2 linked regions of the Homo sapiens genome follow. The protein of the gene in region 1 purifies or fractionates together with the protein of each later gene. This does not show direct contact. Each region holds a gene or a part of one and is shown on either strand. Other genes may lie near its edges. The genes, in order: DAP and MAN2C1.

Evidence for each region.
Region 2: the proteins of DAP (region 1) and MAN2C1 purify together in Homo sapiens (affinity purification with mass spectrometry; one large-scale study listed by BioGRID and IntAct). This does not show direct contact.

Annotation. Positions count from the first base shown.
Region 1 is NC_000005.10:10,758,330-10,762,764, forward strand, and holds the start of DAP (death-associated protein 1), read right to left. Parts: upstream 2,906-4,435; 5' UTR 2,740-2,905; coding exon 2,685-2,739; intron 1-2,684. UniProt on the Homo sapiens protein: Ribosome-binding protein involved in ribosome hibernation, a process during which ribosomes are stabilized in an inactive state and preserved from proteasomal degradation.
Region 2 is NC_000015.10:75,358,454-75,362,254, reverse strand, and holds part of MAN2C1 (alpha-mannosidase 2C1), read left to right. Parts: intron 1-307; coding exon 308-400; intron 401-534; coding exon 535-651; intron 652-873; coding exon 874-969; intron 970-1,063; coding exon 1,064-1,209; intron 1,210-1,566; coding exon 1,567-1,690; intron 1,691-2,043; coding exon 2,044-2,165; intron 2,166-2,266; coding exon 2,267-2,352; intron 2,353-2,479; coding exon 2,480-2,635; intron 2,636-2,816; coding exon of another isoform or gene 2,817-2,829; coding exon 2,830-2,927; intron 2,928-3,063; coding exon of another isoform or gene 3,064-3,101; coding exon 3,102-3,196; intron 3,197-3,446; coding exon 3,447-3,551; intron 3,552-3,636; coding exon 3,637-3,793; intron 3,794-3,801. UniProt on the Homo sapiens protein: Cleaves alpha 1,2-, alpha 1,3-, and alpha 1,6-linked mannose residues on cytoplasmic free oligosaccharides generated by N-glycoprotein degradation pathways.

The sequences.
Region 1 (4,435 bases):
CTAGGAAAGCGCATTTGAGGGGTGCTGTTGGCATCTGAGGGGTGCTGTTGGCATTTGAGGGGTGCTGTTGGCATTTGAGGGGTGCTGTTGGCATTTGAGGGATGCTGCTGGCATTTGAGGGGTGCTGCTATTGGGCCCCTCCTCTAACTATGGTCTTGGAGACAGATGACAGATGGTGACAGCCACCCGCAAGAGCTCACCCCGTAAGTCTAAAGGGGTTGCCCTGAAGTTACTAGAGGAGTTTACCTGGGGGATGAACAGTGCTGGTACCCTGATGCTGAAGCGGGACGTGAGACTCACTGCAGCAAACACAGCCCCACCCTGTGACTTGCCCCGAGGCCCAAACCTCGAATTTCATAAAGGAGAAAAACTGAGCCCCAGTGAAGCGTGAAGTGATGTCTTCAAACTTAGAACCCAAGCTCACTGCTACACTAGCACAAATAAGCTGCCTCTTCCCTCCTCAGGGGTAAATAAACTACTTACTCTGTAATTCACAAAGCCTAGCTGTTTACTCTGCAATTCAAAGAAAACCAGAGTCCAGCAAGGAATTTCTCCCAGGGAGTGAGTATGTACAGTTTATACCTCTGACCTTAAAAATCTCCATATGGGCACTTTGGAAGGCTGAGGTGGGTGGATCACCTGAAGTCAGGAGTTCAAGACCAGCCTGGCCAACATGGCAAAATCCGGTCTCTACTAAAAATACAAAAATCAGCCAGGTGTGGTGGCAGGCACCTGTAAACCCAGCTACTCGGGAGGCTGAGGCAGGAGAATCTCTTGAACCTAGAAGGCGGAGGTTGCAGTGAGCCAAGATCGTGCCACTGCACTCCCAGGTGACAGAGTGAGACTCTGTTTCAAAAAACAAAACAAAAAACTTCTTTATGGGTGTGTCTCTGTATGCAATTTAATTACTGTACTTTGGTTCTGTATCATTCCAACAGATACGCTTTAATGTAACCCATGTCCTGGGGAGTGGAGGGCCAGAGCAGGTGGCTGCTGCAGTTCCTGGAGGCAGCCCTGCCCGGGGTGGAAATCAAGGCGCTCCTCCCCACAGTGGACAGGGACCCGCTGTGGTGGAATGGAAGTCAGTTATCCTTAAAAGAAATCCCATCAAAAAAAAAACTCCCTTTGAAGTACTTTTTTTCTTAAAACCAATGCAACACAAATTCCCCCAAAACCATTTTCCATCACAGTGGAATGATTTTCTAAAACCCCATGCCTCTTAAGTTCTCTGGCATCAGTTAGACATTTTTCTTTCCCAGTGCCAGTTAGTTTTGTTGTAGAGAGCCTCCGTCACCACTGAAAAATATTGCCTACTCTGGACTGCAACATATTTAAAGAACGGCTCCTATTCATTGTGCTGGTGCAGAGAATTCCCGCCCTATAGCGGAGGACAGCAGAGAAGGATAATGGGAATCTTTTTTTTTTTTTTTTTTTTTTTTGAGATGGAGTCTCGCTCGCTTTGTCGCCAAGGCTGGAGTGCTTTGGCTCAATCTTGGCTCACTACAACTTCTGCCTCCCGGGTTCAAGCCATTCTCCTGCCTCGGCCTCCTGAATAGCTGGGATTACAGGCGCCCGCCACCATGCCCAGCTAATTTTTCTACTTTTAGTAGAGATGGGGTTTCACCATGTTATCCAGGCTAGTCTTGAACTCCTGACCTCAAGTGATCCACCCTCCTTGGCCTCCCAAACTGCTGGGGTTACAGGCATGAGCCACCGCGCCTGGCCAGGAATCTTTATTGTCAAGAAAATGGCGCAAATGTGCCACCAAAAGAAGCCATGTTTCTCAAAGACTTCTGTTCCTACAAGACTGAGTTTATGACACTAAGGCGTGCTATTAAGACCTAAAAGAACCTCACGCATCCATACATTGAAGTGACTTGGCTTCTGAGACCCAAGGCCTTTGATCTTCTCACCAGTGTCCCTCCATATGGGCCGACTGCCACTGGAAAGGAGAGTAGAAACGGAAACAGACCCGTCTGGACAGAATCCAAAGTGCAAACAGGAACTGTGCCCAGAGAGAGGAGGAGGTGGCAGAAGCATGAAGGCTGCTTAGATCCCTATGTTCTAAGAAAGACCGCTCTTTCCTGGCTTTAACTTCCTTGGCTCAGAAGTTTAGGATTTGCTCAAAATCAGAAAAAGCAACTTTGGGGGAAAAAAAAAATCTGGATGTGGAAGAAACTGGCGGTGAAAGTCATATTGAGTGATTAATGATAAAAATTATTTCCGCTCCTTGGTTCTTGAGTCGGTATGAAACGCTGGCAGCCTCTAATTAATCATCACCATGATATTAACACCACTGACTTTTCATTGCTTCTGCTACTTTCTTTCTAGACATCTGTATCCTCTAAGTAAATATTATCCGCCAAAACTTTGTTATAAGTTGTGCAACTGGGTTCGCCCAAGGCACCGGAGCCTGCGCGCAATCGCACAGGTACGCGGCCGCCCGCGGTCCTCAGGAAGAAACGCTTCGCCGCCGCCGGCAAGCGGGGCCGAAGCTCCGGCGGGCTCCTCCCGGGCCTGGGCGCCCGACCTCTCCGCGGCCCGCGCCCCTCGGGCGGGCATCAAGGCCCGGAACCCGTCTCAGCGCTCGCCGGGGCCCTCCCCGCGGAGCCCCCGCCCGGCGCCCCCGGGTTCGAGCCCGCCCCCGGCACCCGCGCGTGGAGAGAGAGGAAAAGAGTCAGTACCGGCGGGCGGGTGTCCAGCTTTAGTCTCTAGTTTCCCTTCGGGAGGCGAAGACATGACGCGGCGGGGCTTCCGCGGGGCCGAGGCGGCGGCGCGGTTCTCGGGCCGGGCGGGCGTGCGCGAGTGAGCTCAGGTGTGAGCGCCGGGGAGCGAGCGGGCGGGAGAACGACGCGCGCGCGTGGGGCGCCGGGGCCGCGCGAGCCGGGTGAGTGCCACTGCCGTTAAGGGGGCGCGGCCGCCGCGCGCCGACGTGGCGCAGCCGAGCCCACCGACGGCATGCGCACTGACGTCACCGCGGCCCGCCCGCCCTGCTGGGCCGCGAGCCAAGCATACGGTGCGTGCGCAGCCGGCCGCGCCACGTCGGATGCTGTGGCCGGGGGCGGGGGCGGGGGCGGGGGCGGGGGCGGAGGAGGGAGGGGAGAGAAGGGGTGAAGAAGTGAGAGGGAGAAGGAAGGAGAGGGAGGCGGGGTCCCCGACTGGCTGCGGGGACTGGAGTTGCGGAAAGTTAAGTAGGGCCCAGCTGAGGATGGCTCCTGCAGCGAACGCGCTCAGCCGGGCTCCTGGCTACGCGGCGACGGCTGGGTGACTGCGCCCCACAGTGCGGGCCAGGGCCGGGGCGTCCCGGCAGGGAGGCGACCGTCCCCTGAGGCCCTCAGCCCCTGCCGCGGCAGCGCCTAATGAAGCGCGGAAAGGAGAGCCCAGATGGCAGCGACGGGGGCCGAGAGAGCAGGAATTTGTTAAAAGACGATGCGAGGGGAGAGCCTGCTTTCCGAGTGAGGGCCAGCGCTGGGGAGCAGAGACGGTGGCTTCTGTCCCTGCCCTCCTCGTTATGAACCAAAAATAAAATTCTAAGCCCTGCAGCCAACGGATGGACCCTCCCCTCCGCCTGTGGCCTTCTAAGTTATCTTGAAAAACTAGTTCAGGCCTTGATGGGAAGCGGAAGTCAAACATGGCCTCACAAACATCCGCACGGAGACCCTAAGACTAATAGAGGACTCTGATAAGAAACATTTGCAGTGTATTCCCGGCTTCATCTGCATGATAACACCTTGGTCTCCACAACTCCTTCATGCAACCCGGACATTCCCTTCTACTGAGTCCAGGTCTTTAGATGATAACTCTCAACCAGTTGCCAATCAGAAAACCTTTAAATGTACCTATGACCCGGACGCCTCCACTTCACATTTTACCTCCTAAAGAGCCAACCTACATCTTACGTATTGATTGATGTCTCATGTCTCCCTCAAATGTATAAAACCAAGATGTTTCCTGGCCACCCTGGGCACATGTCATCAGAACCTCCTGAGGTTGTGTCAATGCACGTCCTTAACCTTGGCAAAATAAACTTCCTAAATTGAGACCACTCTCAGAAACTTTTGGTTTTCACCATCATCTTCCTGTTGCCGTGGCTGACCCCTGGCTCTCGTGCCTTGGATCGTGTTCTTCCCGCCTGCCCCAGTGTTTTGCAACTGCTGTTAACTTCCGCAATGCCTTGCTGGATTCGCATTCAGACAGGCCTAATCTCTTTAGCGAAGGAAACACCACCCCTCGCTTGGCTGTACTTTTCCCTTTGACAACAAAACTGTTCAGGGAGGCTGAGCTCCTCATCTCTTGTCACTCCCTCCAGTCCAGTTTGTCTGGTTTTCATCAAGTTCTGCTGCACTGCCCTCAACCATGGGAGGTCCTTTTGTGGAAGTCACTTATAACCTATGTGCTGCCAGATCCAATGGTCATTTTCTACTTTCATTCTATT
Region 2 (3,801 bases), on another chromosome or scaffold:
TTCCACGGGCCACTCATCCCCGCTGTGTGGCAGGGCTGGCTCATTAGTCCCTGGGATCTCAAGGCCTGGGACTTCAAGGGGGAGGAGAGCCTCCAGCGCTGTGACAAGTTGCATGGCCTAGTCCTGGGCACCCCCTCAGGCAGATGGACAGTCAGGCCTGAAGGACAGGGGCCCTTCCTGAGTTCTGGCTGTAACTCCCATGTTTGAGCAGCCCTGGCTTCTCCTGCAGGGATTGGGTTGGCCTGAGCGCCTGCCTGCTCCCCGTCCAGCGCTGACCTGGGCTGCCTCCCACTTCCTTCACTGCCAGGATGGGAACCTGCCCAGTGGAGAGGCCATGGTGAGGCAGTTTTTGCAGGGCCAGAACTTCTTTCTGCAGGAGTTTGGGAAGATGTGCTCTGAGGTAGGCTGAGAGCTGCTACACCAGGCTGTGGGCGAGTGGGGCTGGCGCTCGACTTGGAGTGCTGAGGGGCTGAGGCTGGGGTGAGTCCGCCTGGAGCTCTGGTTCCTGCACTCCAGGATCCTCTTTCTCCACAGTTCTGGCTGCCGGACACCTTTGGCTACTCAGCACAGCTCCCCCAGATCATGCACGGCTGTGGCATCAGGCGCTTTCTCACCCAGAAATTGAGCTGGAATTTGGTGAACTCCTTCCCAGTAAGCAGGCCCCCGGGGGGTCAGGGTCAGAGTGGGCCTCAGTCCCGCCTGGCCCATTTGCCTCTCCCCCTTATTGTGGGGTCCTAGACAGACCACCAAACCCTCACTCTGCCTCTGCCAGGGTCACATAGCAGGCAGGGGCAGGACCAAGTCTGGAAGGCCTGGCTCTGCCTCAGCCCTGACTCTGGCCTCTCTGCCCTGCTTCTGTTTCCCTGCTGGTAGCACCATACATTTTTCTGGGAGGGCCTGGATGGCTCCCGTGTACTGGTCCACTTCCCACCTGGCGACTCCTATGGGATGCAGGGCAGCGTGGAGGAGGTGAGGGGTCACCTAGGGTGGTGGGGTAGGGGCAGGCTGGAGAGGGCTGGCTTGTTCCAGGCTGATCCATGCTGGCCTGCCCTCACCTGTCTAGGTGCTGAAGACCGTGGCCAACAACCGGGACAAGGGGCGGGCCAACCACAGTGCCTTCCTCTTTGGCTTTGGGGATGGGGGTGGTGGCCCCACCCAGACCATGCTGGACCGCCTGAAGCGCCTGAGCAATACGGATGGGCTGCCCAGGTCAGGCCAGGCCTTGGCTCTCCTTTAGCCCCACCCTGGGCCCTTGCCATGAGCCCTGCCTTCCCTCAGACATTGGGCCCAACCCCTCCTCTGGACCTTGTCCTGTCCCAATCCTAGACCACGGGTTCCTCCAAACTTCCACCCTGGGGGTGGGTGGGGGAGAAGCTGAAGCTGGTAAGGGCTCCAGCCCATCAGAGAGAGAGGCTCTCCTAGGGCGTCCAGGGCTGGCCATCTGTGAACGGGGAGCTTTCTGGAGTGGCTCCTCTCTGTAGGAGCTGGATCCTTTGCTTTGGTGTGGAAGAAGGGTGAGCCATGTGGTCTCCAAGGCTGGGAGACCTAGGCTTGTGGTCTCCTCAGGGTGCAGCTATCTTCTCCAAGACAGCTCTTCTCAGCACTGGAGAGTGACTCAGAGCAGCTGTGCACGTGGGTTGGGGAGCTCTTCTTGGAGCTGCACAATGGCACATACACCACCCATGCCCAGGTCAGGGGGAGGTTGCAGGGCTGTGCAGGGAGGGTGTGCCCTTGATCTGCAGAGGGTCAGAGAAGGCAGCAGGGGACAGAGCCCAGGCCAGATCTAGGGGAAGAGAAGTTTGGAGGAGAGAAGTTCAAGACCTGGGTTGGTCAAGAAAGCTTGAAGGAGGCAGAAACCCCTGAAGAAAGAAGGGTTTGGGCTGCGGGGAGAAGAGGGAAGGCATTTAAGGCAGGTCACCCGCCAGAGGCCTTCTCCACGAGGCCCTTGGTGAGTCCTCAGGGATTCTGAGCAAGGGAGGGCTTTGGAAGGTGTCCTGGGACAGCTAAGCAGGCTCCAGACTAATCTTCCCATCCTGGGCTCAGATCAAGAAGGGGAACCGGGAATGTGAGCGGATCCTGCACGACGTGGAGCTGCTCAGTAGCCTGGCCCTGGCCCGCAGTGCCCAGTTCCTATACCCAGCAGCCCAGCTGCAGCACCTCTGGAGGTCAGCCCAGTTCTGTCCCTGCCATCCACCTGACTGCTCACTGCAGTTACCTCTGTGCCTGCCCCTCCCAGCCTTCCCATCCCTGCCCTTGGCCCCTGCAGGCTCCTTCTTCTGAACCAGTTCCATGATGTGGTGACTGGAAGCTGCATCCAGATGGTGGCAGAGGAAGCCATGTGCCATTATGAAGGTTAGGCTCACAATAGTCCTGCCTGCTCTCTCCAACCCCAGGGCTGAGCCCAGAGTGTCCCCTGTGGGATACCCATGGGCACATTCCAGACCTGTTGCCCACCTATGACCAGCCAGTCTTTCCTCAGACATCCGTTCCCATGGCAATACACTGCTCAGCGCTGCAGCCGCAGCCCTGTGTGCTGGGGAGCCAGGTCCTGAGGGCCTCCTCATCGTCAACACACTGCCCTGGAAGCGGATCGAAGTGATGGCCCTGCCCAAACCGGGCGGGGCCCACAGCCTAGGTACGAGCTGAGGGGAAGGGTTGCTACTGCAGCAGGAAGGATGGAGGCCAGACAGATCAGGCCTGGGATACCCCGAGGGATCTGGGTGCCCCTGACTGGAGAGTAGTAGCACATCTTCCACCAACCCATCCCCACCTGCGCAAGCTTCCTGAAAGGTCAGGAAGGCTGCACTGATGCCCAGGCCTCACCCCCAGCCCTGGTGACAGTGCCCAGCATGGGCTATGCTCCTGTTCCTCCCCCCACCTCACTGCAGCCCCTGCTGCCCCAGCAGCCTGTGTTCGTAGTGCAAGAGGTGAGTCCTGCATGCCCTGGGGGGCAGGAACTGTGCTGGGATACTTTCTTACAACTGAGGGTCCTGAGCTCCCCTGTCTGGAGCAAGTGGTGAGGCGGGGCTGGGGTTGGGGTGGGAAGACTTTTGGTGTGGGAAGCCCCTACAGACTCAGCCTCAAGGCCTCCTCCCACAAAGACTGATGGCTCCGTGACTCTGGACAATGGCATCATCCGAGTGAAGCTGGACCCAACTGGTCGCCTGACGTCCTTGGTCCTGGTGGCCTCTGGCAGGTGCCAAATCCTCATTGCCCTTTCCCAGTGCCTGGCAAGTAGACCCCAGGCCATTTCCTCTCTCCCCTTGCCACAACACTGCCCACAGCAGCCCACCAGTGGCTCTGGGCTGGAACCCACACATGGAGCAGGGCAGGCTGGGCAGTAGTCCCCTGTCCACTGGGTCTACTCACTCCACCCTACCCCACCAAGAGCAGCTGGAGACAGCGAGGTCAGTTGGTTGTACAGCACCAATCCCATGTCCTTCCAGGGAGGCCATTGCTGAGGGCGCCGTGGGGAACCAGTTTGTGCTATTTGATGATGTCCCCTTGTACTGGGATGCATGGGACGTCATGGACTACCACCTGGAGACACGGTATAGGCTGGGCAGCATGTGGGGATGGTGGAGGTGGTGGGAACACAGGCTGCTCTGGATCAGTATGTCCACCCCTGTCCCATAGGAAGCCTGTGCTGGGCCAGGCAGGGACCCTGGCAGTGGGCACCGAGGGCGGCCTGCGGGGCAGCGCCTGGTTCTTGCTACAGATCAGCCCCAACAGTCGGCTTAGCCAGGAGGTTGTGCTGGACGTTGGCTGCCCCTATGTCCGCTTCCACACCGAGGTAGTCGG